Regions from separate parts of the Homo sapiens genome. Here regions 2 and 3 are each linked to region 1. Evidence: fine-mapped expression QTL. A gene starts in region 1. Each other region holds a variant in brackets. All regions are shown on one strand. Distances are between the middles of the regions. Region 1 holds the start of LINC02899 (long intergenic non-protein coding RNA 2899). Region 2 overlaps LINC02239 (long intergenic non-protein coding RNA 2239). Region 3 overlaps LINC02899 (long intergenic non-protein coding RNA 2899).

Region 1 (4,249 bases):
CTCAAAAAAAAAAAAAAAGAAAAAAAAAAAGAAATTACTGGCATTCCTATATATCAACAACAGCCAAGCTGAAAATCAAGTCAGGAATGCCATCTAATTTATAATGGATACAAAAAAATAAAACACCTAGGAATACAGCTAACCAGGGATGCGGAAGATCTCTACAATGAGAATTACAAAGCACTGCTCGAAAAATCAGAGATGACATAAACAAGTGGAAAAACATGCTATGCTTGAGAATAGAGAGAATCGATATAATTAAAATGGCCTTACTGTCCAAAGAAATTTACAGATTTGCTATTTCTGTCAAACTACCAATGTCATTCTTCACAGAACTAGAAAAGAAAACTCTTTTAAAATTCATTAGAAACAAACAAATAAACAAAGCCTAAGGCAATCCTAAGCAAAAAGGACAAAGATAGAGGCATATCTAACCAACTTGAAACTGCACTATAGCGCTACAGAAATCAAAACAGTGTGGTACTGGTATAAAAACAGACACGTAGACCAATGGAACACAATACAGACCCCAGAAATAAGTCTGCACACCTACAACCATCTCATCCTTGATAAAAATGACAAAAATAAGCAATAGGGAAAGGACTATTCAATAAATGGGTAACTGGCTAGCCATATGCAAAAAATGGAAACTGGACCCCTCTCTTTCATTATATATATATACACATACATACATATATATTTAAATCAACTCAAGATAGATTGAAGACTTAAATGCAAAACTCAAAACTATAAAAACCCTGGAAGACAACAAGGCAATACCATTATAGACATAGAAACTGACAAGTATTTCATAATAAAGACACCAAAAACAACAGCAACAAAAGTAAAAATTGATTAATGAGATCTAATTATACTAAAGAGCTTCTGCACAGCAAAAGAAACTATCAACAGAGTAAACTGACAACCTACAAAATGGGAGAAAATATTTGCAAACAATGTATCTGACAAAGATCTAATATCCAGCATCTATAAGGAACTTAAACAAATTTACAGGGGAAAAACAACCCCATTAAAAAGTGAGCAATAGCCATGAACAATCACTTTTCAAAAGAAAACATATATGTGGTCAAAAAACCTGTATCAAGCTCAGTATCACAGATCATTACAGAAATGAAAATCAAAACCACAATGAGATACTATTGTGTCCAGAATTGGTGGGTTCTTGGTCTCACTGACTTCAAGAATGAAGCCTCGGACCCTCGCGGTGAGTGTTACAGCTCTTAAGGTGGCGCGCGTCTGGAGTTTGTTCCTTCTGATGTTCGGATGTGTTCAGTTTCTTCCTTCTGGTGGGTTCGTGGTCTCGCTAGCTCAGGAGTGAAGCTGCAGACCTTCGCGGTGAGTGTTACAACTCATAAAAGCAGTGTGGACCCAAAGAGTGAGCAGTAGCAAGATTTATTGCAAAGAGCGAAAGAACAAAGCCTCCACAGTGTGGAAGGGGTCCCGAGCGGGTTGCCACTGCTGGTTCAGGCAGCCTGCTTTTATTCTCTTATCTGGCCCCACCCACATCCTGCTGATTGGTAGAGCCCAGTGGTCTGTTTTGACAGGGCGCTGACTGGTGCGTTTACAATCCCTGAGCTAGACACAAAGGTTCTCCACGTCCCCACTAGATTAGCTAGATACAGAGTGTCCATTGGTGCATTCACAAACTCTGAGCTAGACACAGGGTGCAGACTGGTGTGTTTACACACCTTGAGCTAGATACAGAGTGCCAATTGGTGTATTTACAATCCCTGAGCTAGACATTAAGGTTCTCCAAGACCCCACCAGAGTAGCTAGATACAGAGTGTCGATTGGTGCATTCACAAACCCTGAGCTAGATACAAGGTGCTGATTGGTGTATTTACAAACCTTGAGCTGGACATAAAGGTTCTCCATGTCCTCACCAGACTCAGGAGCCCAGCTGGCTTCACCCAGTGGATCCCTCACCGGGGCTGCAGGTGGAGCTGCCTGCCAGTCCCGCGCCGCGCGCCCGCACTCCTCAGCCCTTGGGTGGTCGATGGGACTGGGCGCCCTGGAGCAGGGGGCGGCGCTCATCCGGGAGGCTCGGGCAGCACAGGAGCCAACGGAGGGGGTGGGAGGCTCAGGCATGGCGGGCTGCAGGTCCCGAGCCCTGCCCTGAGGGAAGGCAGCTAAGGCCCAGCGAGAAATCGAACGCAGCGCCGGTGGGCTGTCACTGCTGGGGTACCCAGTACACCCTCCACAGTCGCTGGCCCGGAGGGTGTACTCCTCATTGCTCGGCCGCGGCGGGGCCAGCCGGCTGCTCCGAGTGCAGGGCCCGCCAAGCCCACGCCCACCCGGAACTCCAGCTGGCCGCAAGCGCCGCGCGCAGCGCCGGAAGCGCCGCGCGCAGCCCCGGTTCCCGCTGTCGCCTTTCCCTCCACACCTCCCTGCAAGCTGAGGGAGCCGGCTCCGGCCTTGGCCAGCCCAGAAAGGGGCTGCCACAGTGCAGCGGTGGGCTGAACGGCTCCTCAAGTGCCGCCAAAGTGAGAACCCAGGCAGAGGAGGCGCCGAGAGCGAGCGAGGGCTGTGAGGACTGCCAGCACGTTGTCACCTCTCAATATCTTTGATGAGTTCCAAAATTTTTAAATATTAAATATTTATAATACTTTAAGATTTATTTGAAAATGTTAATGAAACAAAGTGTAGAATCTGGATGCAATTCAAAAATGCCTCAAATATTTTATCTCACACCACATATGACATTAGTAAAATTATATTCATGACCTATACATCTTAAAAAACATTGAAACTTGCTTAGTTATAATTTAGCAAAAAAAAATTTTTTTAAAAACCTGTGAGATGGGCATTTAGCAAAAAAAAAAAATCTTGCTTAATTAATTTTGACCCCTTCTAAAAGTTCTTCTCACTCGTTTATCACTTATAATTTATATCTAAATAGTTAAATAATATATTTCATTTATAAATTGGAGAGATAATTATCTTAGCAAATTTCTTTAATTACACAATTGTATTTATCTTCAGTCATTGAGAGTTATGTAAGACTTAACTTCATATATTAGAGAAAAAAAGGAGTATTTACATCTTAAATTGTACAATATAACTTCTTTTTTTACCCATGTGATGTAGTTATGTTGATTAATACATTTGGTTGTAATTCCACATATTGTAAGTAACATTACATTTTTAGTAAGCCATTTCTTGCTGTGTAATCAACACTAATTCACTCTGGCTTCTAACGCTTATGCCCATATTTCCATGTTTGAAGGGTGACTATTGCTCTACTAGACTCATATATGATTGTCTTGACTTAATGTTAAGCTGCAAATTACATGCAAATCTCCTCCATATATTTCCTAACTCTCTTTAAATCATTGGTTACTATTCAGCTCCTCAAATCACTGTCTTTTGATGGCAGATCCAAAACAGCAAAAAGACAGGCCAACTTCCTGAATCATAGGTATAGCCTTTGCTTATATCTCACTTTACTCTCTTTTGACCACCGTAAGCCAGAGAGCAAATCCCAAATTTATGGAGCCAGAAAGGAGTGAATGTTTGTTGAGAAGTATCTCATTTTGTATCATACATATTATCTTCGCTGGGTCTGTTTCTTAGTATTAATGTGTACATGCATGTACACACACAACTATTATTACACTTAAAATTTACATAAACAGTTAAATTTTGGATTGATACTCATAATTAAAATACTATTTGTATACTTAATGACAACTCTTGGATTTAGGATTAGTATCAATCAATAAACCATCTGGTAACAAAATTTCCAAAAAAAAAAAAACAAATCTAAAGTTATGTCTTTTTTGTCAAAGTTTTTAAAAACAATTTAAAAAGAGAAATTAAAAAACTATAGTGAGAGTCTTCCAGTTACAGCTTTGATGTGTAGAAAACTTGGAAGTCATTACTCCTGCCTTTCTTTTTGTTTTGTTTTGTTTTTGACATGTAGTCTCATTCATTTCACTCACTCTGTTGCCCAGGCTAGAGTGTGCTGGCGCCATCTTGGCTCACTGCAATCTCTGCCTCCGGAATTCAAGTGATTCTCCTGCCTCAGCCTCCTGAGTAGCTGGGATTGCATGTGTGCCACCGTGCTTGGCTGATTTTGTATTTTTAGTAGAGATGGGCTTTCACCATGTTTACCAGGCTGCTCTGTAACTCCTGACCTCAGGTGATCCACCCGCCTCAGCCTCCCAAAGTGCTGGGATTACAGGTATGAGCCACTGCTTCCGGCCCCTATCAAGAAGAAGAAGAAGAA
Region 2 (4,249 bases), 880 kb before region 1:
TGACTAAGCTTGACAGCCTTCCAACTCTTGGAGTCTTTTCTGACAAGGTCAGTAATTATATAAATGGATGCTATTTAAAAATATTTTATAATTAAATGTGCCAACATTTGAGAGATTTGCATAAATCAATAAAACAATATTTTCCAATTGAAAAATATACAGGGTTATAAAATCATAGGCTGGGAAAAGATCCAGTCAAATTCAAAATACACCAATGGATTTTAATGTACCAGATGATAAAAAGTTTACTGATACGGTTTCAGTTAACACATTGCAACTAACTTTTAATAGACTACACTTTGTGGAGTTTTGGTATAGTATAAAAGAAGAATATGCAATATTACCTAAATATATTATTGAGAGATTGCCTGCCATAAAAACAGCATGAGTTTGAGTGAGAAAAGTAATTCCATCAGCCTCCTCTTGTTCCCCAAAATGGCTAGCTACAGAGAGTTTGTCACTGAAGATTAAGCAAGTTTTTCCTCTTTTGAAATCTCCCCAAATCGCTTATCTACCCAATTGCAGCCAACCAAGTGAGAGAGCTGAGTATAAAGGGGTCACCAGAGAACCCCCAACCCACCTGTCCCTGGGATGAGTGCACACTGGGATGGAGCCTCGGGAAGTTTGTTCATTTGCAGTGGGGAGGAGCTTGGCCCCTCCTCTTCCTGGGTGGAACCTGGAATTCAATCTGTGAGGCAGGACGCACACTTGCAGGACCCTAGCTTTGCAGAGAGTCCTGTTTCCCTTTCTGTCCATTTTTGCTCAAAAATTCCATTTTTTTCAACCTTCAAAGTGTCTGCGAGTCTAATATCTCATGGCCATGTGACAAGAAACTGGCTCTTAGCTGAACTAAGGAAAAAGTCCTACGACACAAGGACACAAAAATGTACCTGAAGAACAATTAGAAAGTCTCCACCACTTTCAAAAATCCCGTAAGAGTGTTAAGAAAACTTGCTAATCAGAGTCTATCTATCTCAGGACTTACTCCTTTTCCTCTATAAAACCAAAACTTCCTTCAAATACCTTTGAATCCTGCTGAAAAGAGCATGGCCACAGATAGTTTCCTTTAAGGCTGCATGATCAGGAATAAGTAGCATTTACTAATTTTGTCTCAAATTTAATTTTATCTTTGACATTATTAAAATAATTATTCCTTTTCCTACTATATTTCTGTGTAAGCCTGATTTTTTATACTTTAACCAAAACAACATATTATAATAGGTTGAATGCAAAAGAGTTTTGAGAATTCAACTATTTCCTAATAAGCCAGATAGATTTTAAATCTGCAATAATGTAGAAAAATGCTACTCTTCTCACCAATTATTTTTTAGTTTAGAAATGTATTTTTAGAAAGATACGTTATTTAGGTTAACATGTAATGGGTTAATCTTGCTATTTTTAAATTATTCAATAAACTTTTAAATCTCAGTTTTAATTTCAAGTGTAGTAAATATTAAAAGATATAAGCCATAAAACAAAATTATTTGGGGTCTTCAATATTTTAAGGGTGCAGCGGTGTCCTGAAACAAAAACTTTGAGAATTTCTTTCCTAGCCTTTCATTATGAGTTCTAATTCCCATAAATACATGAGATTTCTTATATATAGCAATTATGATAAAAGTACTCAACATATTTTAAAAATCCTTGAATTCAGACTTTTGTCCCCATCATGCACTTGTCAATACAATGTGTACTGTTCACAGTATGTCAAATAGGAACAACACAGGATAGCTACATGTCAAAAAGTAAAATTGGTAACACTTGAAACATACAACTGGATAGATTTATAGTGTGCATTAGTCAATGTGCTCCAGAGAAACAGAACCAATAAGACATATGATTAGATAGATAGATGCCAGATAGATAGATAGATAGATAGATAGATAGATAGATAGATAGATAGATAGATAGAT[TA/A]GATAGATAGATAGATGATAGAAAATAGATGCTTAGATGGTTGGTAGGTAGGTAGGTAGGTAGACAGATAGATGGAAATTTATTATGGGAATTGGCTCATGCAATTATGGATGCCGAGAAGTTCCACAGTTTGCCATCTGCAGGCTGGAGAACTAGGAAAACCTGTGGTATAATTGAGTTTGATACTGAAGGTCTGAGAACCAGGAGCACCAATGTTCCAGGACAGAAGAAGATGATTGTTCTAGCTCAAGAAGAGAGAGAGTGAATTTTTCCTTCCTCTGCCTTTTTGTTCTATTCAGGGACATGACAAAATGGGGGATGCCCACCCACATTGAGGAGCAAGACTTTTACTCAGTCTGTTGATTCAAATGATAATCTTTCCTGGAAACTCATTCAAAGACATACCAAAAATACAATTTTTCCAGCTATCTGGCTATTCCTTAACTCAGAGGCAAGTTGACACATACAATTACACATCACAGAGTGTATTCCATTCATTAATATTTTGTACATATTTAAATTATGGTGGTGCTGAATTTAATTTCAAATAATCAAAAGAAAAAAGAATAGGGAAAAAAGCAATATTGTTTTTCTAAAAAAATGATACTGTGCCTTTTCTGACACATTTTAGCAATTACCAAAACTTTTGTTCACATTTTGTTTTACTTTACAATTATATCTTCAGCTGTATGCCATGGAAATGTATTTCTTATTTACTTCACAAGAGTACTTTTATAATGGAACAATTAACAACACACAAATTGTTAATTCCTTGTTAGTTTGAAACCATCTGGTGTCAAATTCTATACACGAGGGTGGGATTTGAAACAGACATGCTTCCCGCAACATGTTCAGTGTTAATCACCAGTGAAACCTGATGAAAATAGTCTCTCTGTTTTTAGAAATGCTTCTATTGTTTTAGACTTAAAAAAAATGGTATTATGTTCATTTTACAAGAATTTATATTGAAATTTAATTAAATTGTTTTTGTCCAGGGCAATAATAACATCTGTGTCAGAAGTTTTACAAGGAATAATATATGAGATGCATCATATTTATCTATAATCACATGTAACATGATCTGATCTGTGGAATCAGTAGTGTCTTACAGTGTTTTAGAGTTTTTTTTTTACATTTAGGGAATATTTTATAAAGTATATTACATTGTATGCTCAGTGTGGCTAAAAATAAAATGGTAGAAGCATAAAAATACCCCAAATTCCAAGTTCCATTACTTACTATGTATTTAAGTATACATATAAAATATATCTGAATCTTGATACATCATAAAAGAAGATGTGGCATTTTTATCATGTCATCCCTCTTCAAATTTTATTATTCTATCTACATTTTCATTCACCTAAGGTATCATGCTGACCCACTTACTTATTCCTTAATGATTTCTGATTATTCATTGGTCCAGATATTTCAGACTTTCCCCATGAAAATGGTGGGAGGTTTGAACAATTTGGAAAATCACGACTGTCAGTAGAGAAGTAGCTGCTTTCTTCTGTCACAGGCACAATTTGACAAGCTTGCTTGGGTTTCTGGAAAAGACAGTGGTTTTAAAATTCACTTTAAAAGCAATTCTCTTACCTTCAACTCACTTAGGAACTAAAAATAAGAAAATATTATTTACAAGGAAATCCAGAAACATATTTTATTATAGAAATTTCTCTGCTATTTGCAGTATAAGATAAATGAAATAAAATGGCTGTTAAGATCAACCTACAAGTTTTTATATTACTAATCAAAGGGCAGTGTTGGCTGGCCATGGTGGCTCCTGCCTGTGATCCCAGCACTTTGAAAGGCAGAAGTGGGTAGATCAACTGAGGTTAGGAGTTCGAGACCAGTCTGCCCAGCATGGTGAAACCCCATCTCTACTAAAGGAGGCTGAGGCAGGAGAATTGCTTGACCCTGGGAGGCAGAGGCTGCAGTGAGCTGAGATCATGCCACTGTACTCCAGCCTGGGCAAAAGAGTGAGACTGTCTCAAAAAAAAAAAAAAAAAAAAAAAAAAAAAAAAAGGCAATGTTGTCAAATACGGCCCAGATTTTGAAATAAACTACTGACTTTCATTTCATGGTTTGGTGGGGTAAAGGCTGAAGCAGGGCCAACATGTGGGTTGGAAACTCTACTGATATTAGCAGTGATAAAATAGCCAGAAAAAAAAAAAACAACATATTGCCAAATTACACCCTGAAAACATATCTCGTATCTAGCTTACTACCTTGGCGGAATGAGGCCTGGAAATGACCTATCTGGAACCGCAAAACAAATCTTGCTAAAGGGAAGAGCTGTGCTAATACACATTGCCAAATGTTCAAAACGTCACTG
Region 3 (4,249 bases), 220 kb before region 1:
AGGTGAGATACACTTTTAAACAACCAGATCTCATGAGAACTCACTATCACAACGACAGTACCAAGGAAGATGGTGCTAAAGCATTCCTGAGAAACTGCCCGCATAATCCAATCTCCTCCCACCAGGCCCCACTTCCAACATTGAGAATAACAACTGCGATGCGGGTGAGGACACAGATCCAAACCATATCAGACATATTTTAAAGAAGTGATGGGGAAGTATTAAAAACAAAAGTATCATTCAGCAGAGCAAGGTGGGAGGATCTTTGCCTATGTCTTTATTACCAAGGAACCATCTTAGCATGTTGAATCCTGTATGTGTTCAAGCTATTTTATTTTCACTTTTTCTTCTCTATTTACATAGAGAGAACACGAGCAAAGCTTGTGGTCTGAGGATTATGCCAACTGTAGACAATATTTAAAAGTTTGGGCCGGGCAAGTTGGCTTACGCCTGTAATCCCAGCACTTTGGGAGGCTGAGGCGGGCGGATCACGAGGTCAGAAGATCGAGACCATCCTGGCTAACACGGTGAAACCCCTTCTCTACTAAAAATACAAAAAATTAGCCGGGCGTGGTGGCGGGTGTCTGTAGTCCCAGCTACTCAGGAGGCTGAGACAGGAGAATGGAGTGAACTGGGGAGGCGGAGCTTGCAGTGAGCCAAGATCACCTCACTGCACTCCAGCCTGGGTGACAGAGCGAGACTCCGCTTCAAAAAAAGATAAATAAATAAAATTAAATTAAAAATAAATAAATAAATAAAAAGTGTGCAGAATAAATTGAAACTATTTAAGAAACATGATTTATGTCATAAAAAGAAATGATCATTTTATTGTGATGAATATACATTAAAACAAAATACATGTTAAAGTAAGTTTATTTCAGTTATGTTATTAAAAGTAATATATAAACAATATTTCAAAAAACTTTTTCATACTCTGTGATCCACTTCTCTTCTTCCAAGTGACTTTTCTCATAGTGTCATATTCTATTTGTATTTAAAAGGAAAATTAATCCATATGGTTTCGCATTCTTTATATTTATCTCATCGCAATGTTTTGCATGAACTGTTTTCTATCTCAAAATGTTCTAAACCTTTTAAAAGCCTTTTATTCTACGTTGCAGAGAGCTATTATATACACAATTTAAGTCAAGGCTGAAAGGACTCAAATTTATTTGCAAATGAAAATCTCATAGGGTTAGAATGAATTAAAAACACTTCCTGTTAAAATATATGTGAATATGTGTGAAAATTGTTATACCAAAAACAATTTTGGCATTTTAACTTATTCTGACCTTTTTCTTCCAATATTTAGGGTGATATGATTGTTAACCAGAAATATGCATATTTATTTGAAAATACAGATAATTTTTCTCCCTTCAGTCCAAATATGGGTGTTTCTGATTGATAATAATTGGGATTCTACTTTGACAATGTATTTCACTGCTCAAAATAAAATAGCATTAATTAATAGGCCCAATATAACCTCACTATGTTTTTCTTTTTCCTGGATTTATGAACGCAACATATGACACAACCTTCTATCACTTTTATATGCTCTTCAGAAAGGTTCTCCTTCACAAACTCTGTACCACTGACTGCCTCCATCACTAGTTTATTACTTATGATAAGCAATGTTAAATTATGAAATACATACCTTATACTTTTTTTCCCAAA[C/T]ATGTTATAAGATGATTCATTATAGATACTGTTTTCTGCTTTTCTTGTGTTTCACAAACTGCTAAAGACTATGGTATGTGCTTAGAATTTGTACAATAAGCACATGACTCATTTCCTATTATTCCACTTGTAGCTAATTATTGAGCTTTGTATCCAAGCTTTGCTTACCCATGATCTGTTATTTATTAATGCCTCTCCTCTGAGAAAAAGTCTTAATTTTCCTGAGACACAATAGGCACCTGAGTGAAAGGAGAGTTGATCCAAAAATACTGTGTTTGCACAAAGACTATGAAGACTTATGGTAAAATATTCCAGTTTCTTTCAAAGAACAAAGGCCAGATATTAGGAGAAGGTATAAATATTTTCACATCATTGCTTTGTGTCACTCTTTTACTTTCTGCTCCATCCCCAATAATTCATAATGTGGTTAAATGGCACGCAAGTTGCAATTAGACACACACAAAAACACACAGCAGTGAAAGAAAATTTCTTAGCATTTCTGTGGCATCATGAGTTCAAAGTATCACCAGTAGCATTGGCAATGGCTTGAATAGAAATGGGACATAAGTATTTTGATACATACATCAGCTCTGTTGATATCAGTGAACAGCTAATTACAGCCGTATGTCAAGGAAGCACAAATATCAGTCAGCTCTTATCAGTGTTATTTCCTTGAAAAAGCAAGCAGATCAACTACTACCACTTTTGGGGGAAAAAGATTAGTACTCTCCCTATTAAACATTAAAAAATCTCAATGTGGATTCCATAATTTATCTGCAGCAATACTGGTTTCAGCACCATAGCTGCTGTAGGGGTAACTGTGGTGACTGAAAATGTCACCAGATAATAGTACAGATGGATGGAGGAAAGTAGACATGCCATAAAGTATCTATAATGAACAATTTTCAGAGCAAACGGTAATATCCTCTATTTCAAAATGATTTGAAAGAGGCCAAAACTTTTGAAGAGTAAGTGAGCACAGAACTTCAAAATGCTTGCGACACTTATAACGGTCTATTTTTATTTTCAAGCTGTTGAGGGCTGAGAAATATAGAATCGTTTTAGTTCTGTTCAGGAGGCATTAAATGGAAAGCTACAATTTACTAGGCACTATTCTGGGTGTGAGAGACATAGAGATTAGGTGGACATATTTCTTGCTTCTCCAATGGGGAAGACAGATGCTTAAAGAGATTGTTTTTATATAATGTTACATACATTATAACAGATAAATATAAATTATTTCAGTCTTTGTCAAAGTGATTCTTCAAATACTTGAGCTTTTAAGGATGAGTAAAAAAAAAGGCCAAAAAGTTTACCTAATCAAAAAGGGAAAATTAGAAGAGCTAACACTTATTCAGTGATTTATTGTGATTCATATTCTTCTAAGCACTTTACATGGATCATTCATTAATCCTGAAAACAACTCTGTGGGATGGTTCTATTGTCATATCAATTTTACAGATGGGGAAATCAAGGCTCAGAATAGTCAAATAACTTACATAACTTCACAAAGCTAATGACATAGAGGATGGATTAAGAACCCAGGCAATTTGACCCCAGGGCAACACAGTGTTTTGCTAAACAGATCATGGAGAACTGTATAAAACCATTTTCCACTTACTCTAATTATTTCAGTGAGCCATTAAAAAAATTTAAGTAGGCATAAAACAGTAAGGTATTTGCTAAAGGTCTGAAAATCTTCTACTGCAGAATTTTGAGATGATTTAGAACTAGAGGCTGGGAGACCATTTAGAGATAATTGCATGTGAATTCTGCCAGGGTCCGGCTTATGACAGATGTAGAAGTGAGTGGAAAGGGGGATGGATTTGAGATACAGAAATGAGAATTTCCATGAATCGATACTTGATCGGGTGCATAAAGTAAGTAAGAGATGAAGGATGGTTGTGTAGATGACATTAAATTTAACTGAGAGGAAATGCAAGCGTAATGGGTTTGGAGTGTGAATTGAAAAATGGGATAGATGTTTTGGGATAAATGAGAGTGAAATGTCTGTTAAGCATTTATAGATATGCATGCAACAAAGTTCAATGTATGAGTCTGAAGAAGAGAAAAAAGTTTGCAAGTTATATTTCAAATTCCCTTAGTTCAACTTAACAAATGTTATTGAGCAATTAATATAATTCAGTTTTGATACCAGAAAATATTTTCTTCTCTCAAGGATCTAAACATTTATGAATGGTTATCACTATATAGGTGGGACACAAATTACATTACTCTACAAGTACATTAGATTGAAAGGAGAAACGAACCAAAAGCAGAGTAAAGGGGACAAATGAGGTCAATTAAGATGGCAAAAAAGTTAGAAGGAATACTGACAAAATATAATATTATGAATGAAATGGAAATAGAATTTAAAGAGGGGTGAGTTTAACAGTGACGTGCACTGCACAATGATCATATGCAGCAATTCTTTTTAATATTTCTATCTTGGTTATTCCTGTTTCAAAATATTTATTGGCAATCTGAGAATGACTCTATTCATCCAACAACGCACACTAAATAGGCCCAGAAAATACCATTATTCTTTCAGCTCCTCCAGCTAGTTATGTTGGTA

What was found. PIP is the estimated chance that this variant, and not a neighbour inherited with it, causes the effect. A credible set is the group of variants that fine-mapping cannot tell apart.
Region 2: its variant is the best candidate, but not a certain one, in a credible set for the expression of LINC02899 in monocytes after LPS (Fairfax 2014, PIP 0.87).
Region 3: its variant is the best candidate, but not a certain one, in a credible set for the expression of LINC02899 in thyroid (GTEx, PIP 0.53).

The regions. Positions count from the first base shown.
Region 1 is chr5:23,949,424-23,953,672 of GRCh38, reverse strand. It overlaps LINC02899 (long intergenic non-protein coding RNA 2899), which reads right to left and starts at 2,325. Exons shown (of 5, transcript NR_131245.1): 1 at 1,870-2,325. RefSeq lists an enhancer at 1,616-2,115.
Region 2 is chr5:24,832,198-24,836,446 of GRCh38, reverse strand. It overlaps LINC02239 (long intergenic non-protein coding RNA 2239), which reads left to right. Exons shown (of 3, transcript NR_037896.1): 3 at 1-1,167. Among named protein-coding and RNA genes, the nearest start is that of LINC02239, 6.3 kb to the left of the region's middle. The variant TA/A (reference allele first, on the strand shown) is at 1,914.
Region 3 is chr5:24,165,528-24,169,776 of GRCh38, reverse strand. All of the region lies in intron 4 of LINC02899 (long intergenic non-protein coding RNA 2899), which reads right to left. Among named protein-coding and RNA genes, the nearest start is that of LINC02899, 220 kb to the right of the region's middle. The variant C/T (reference allele first, on the strand shown) is at 1,675.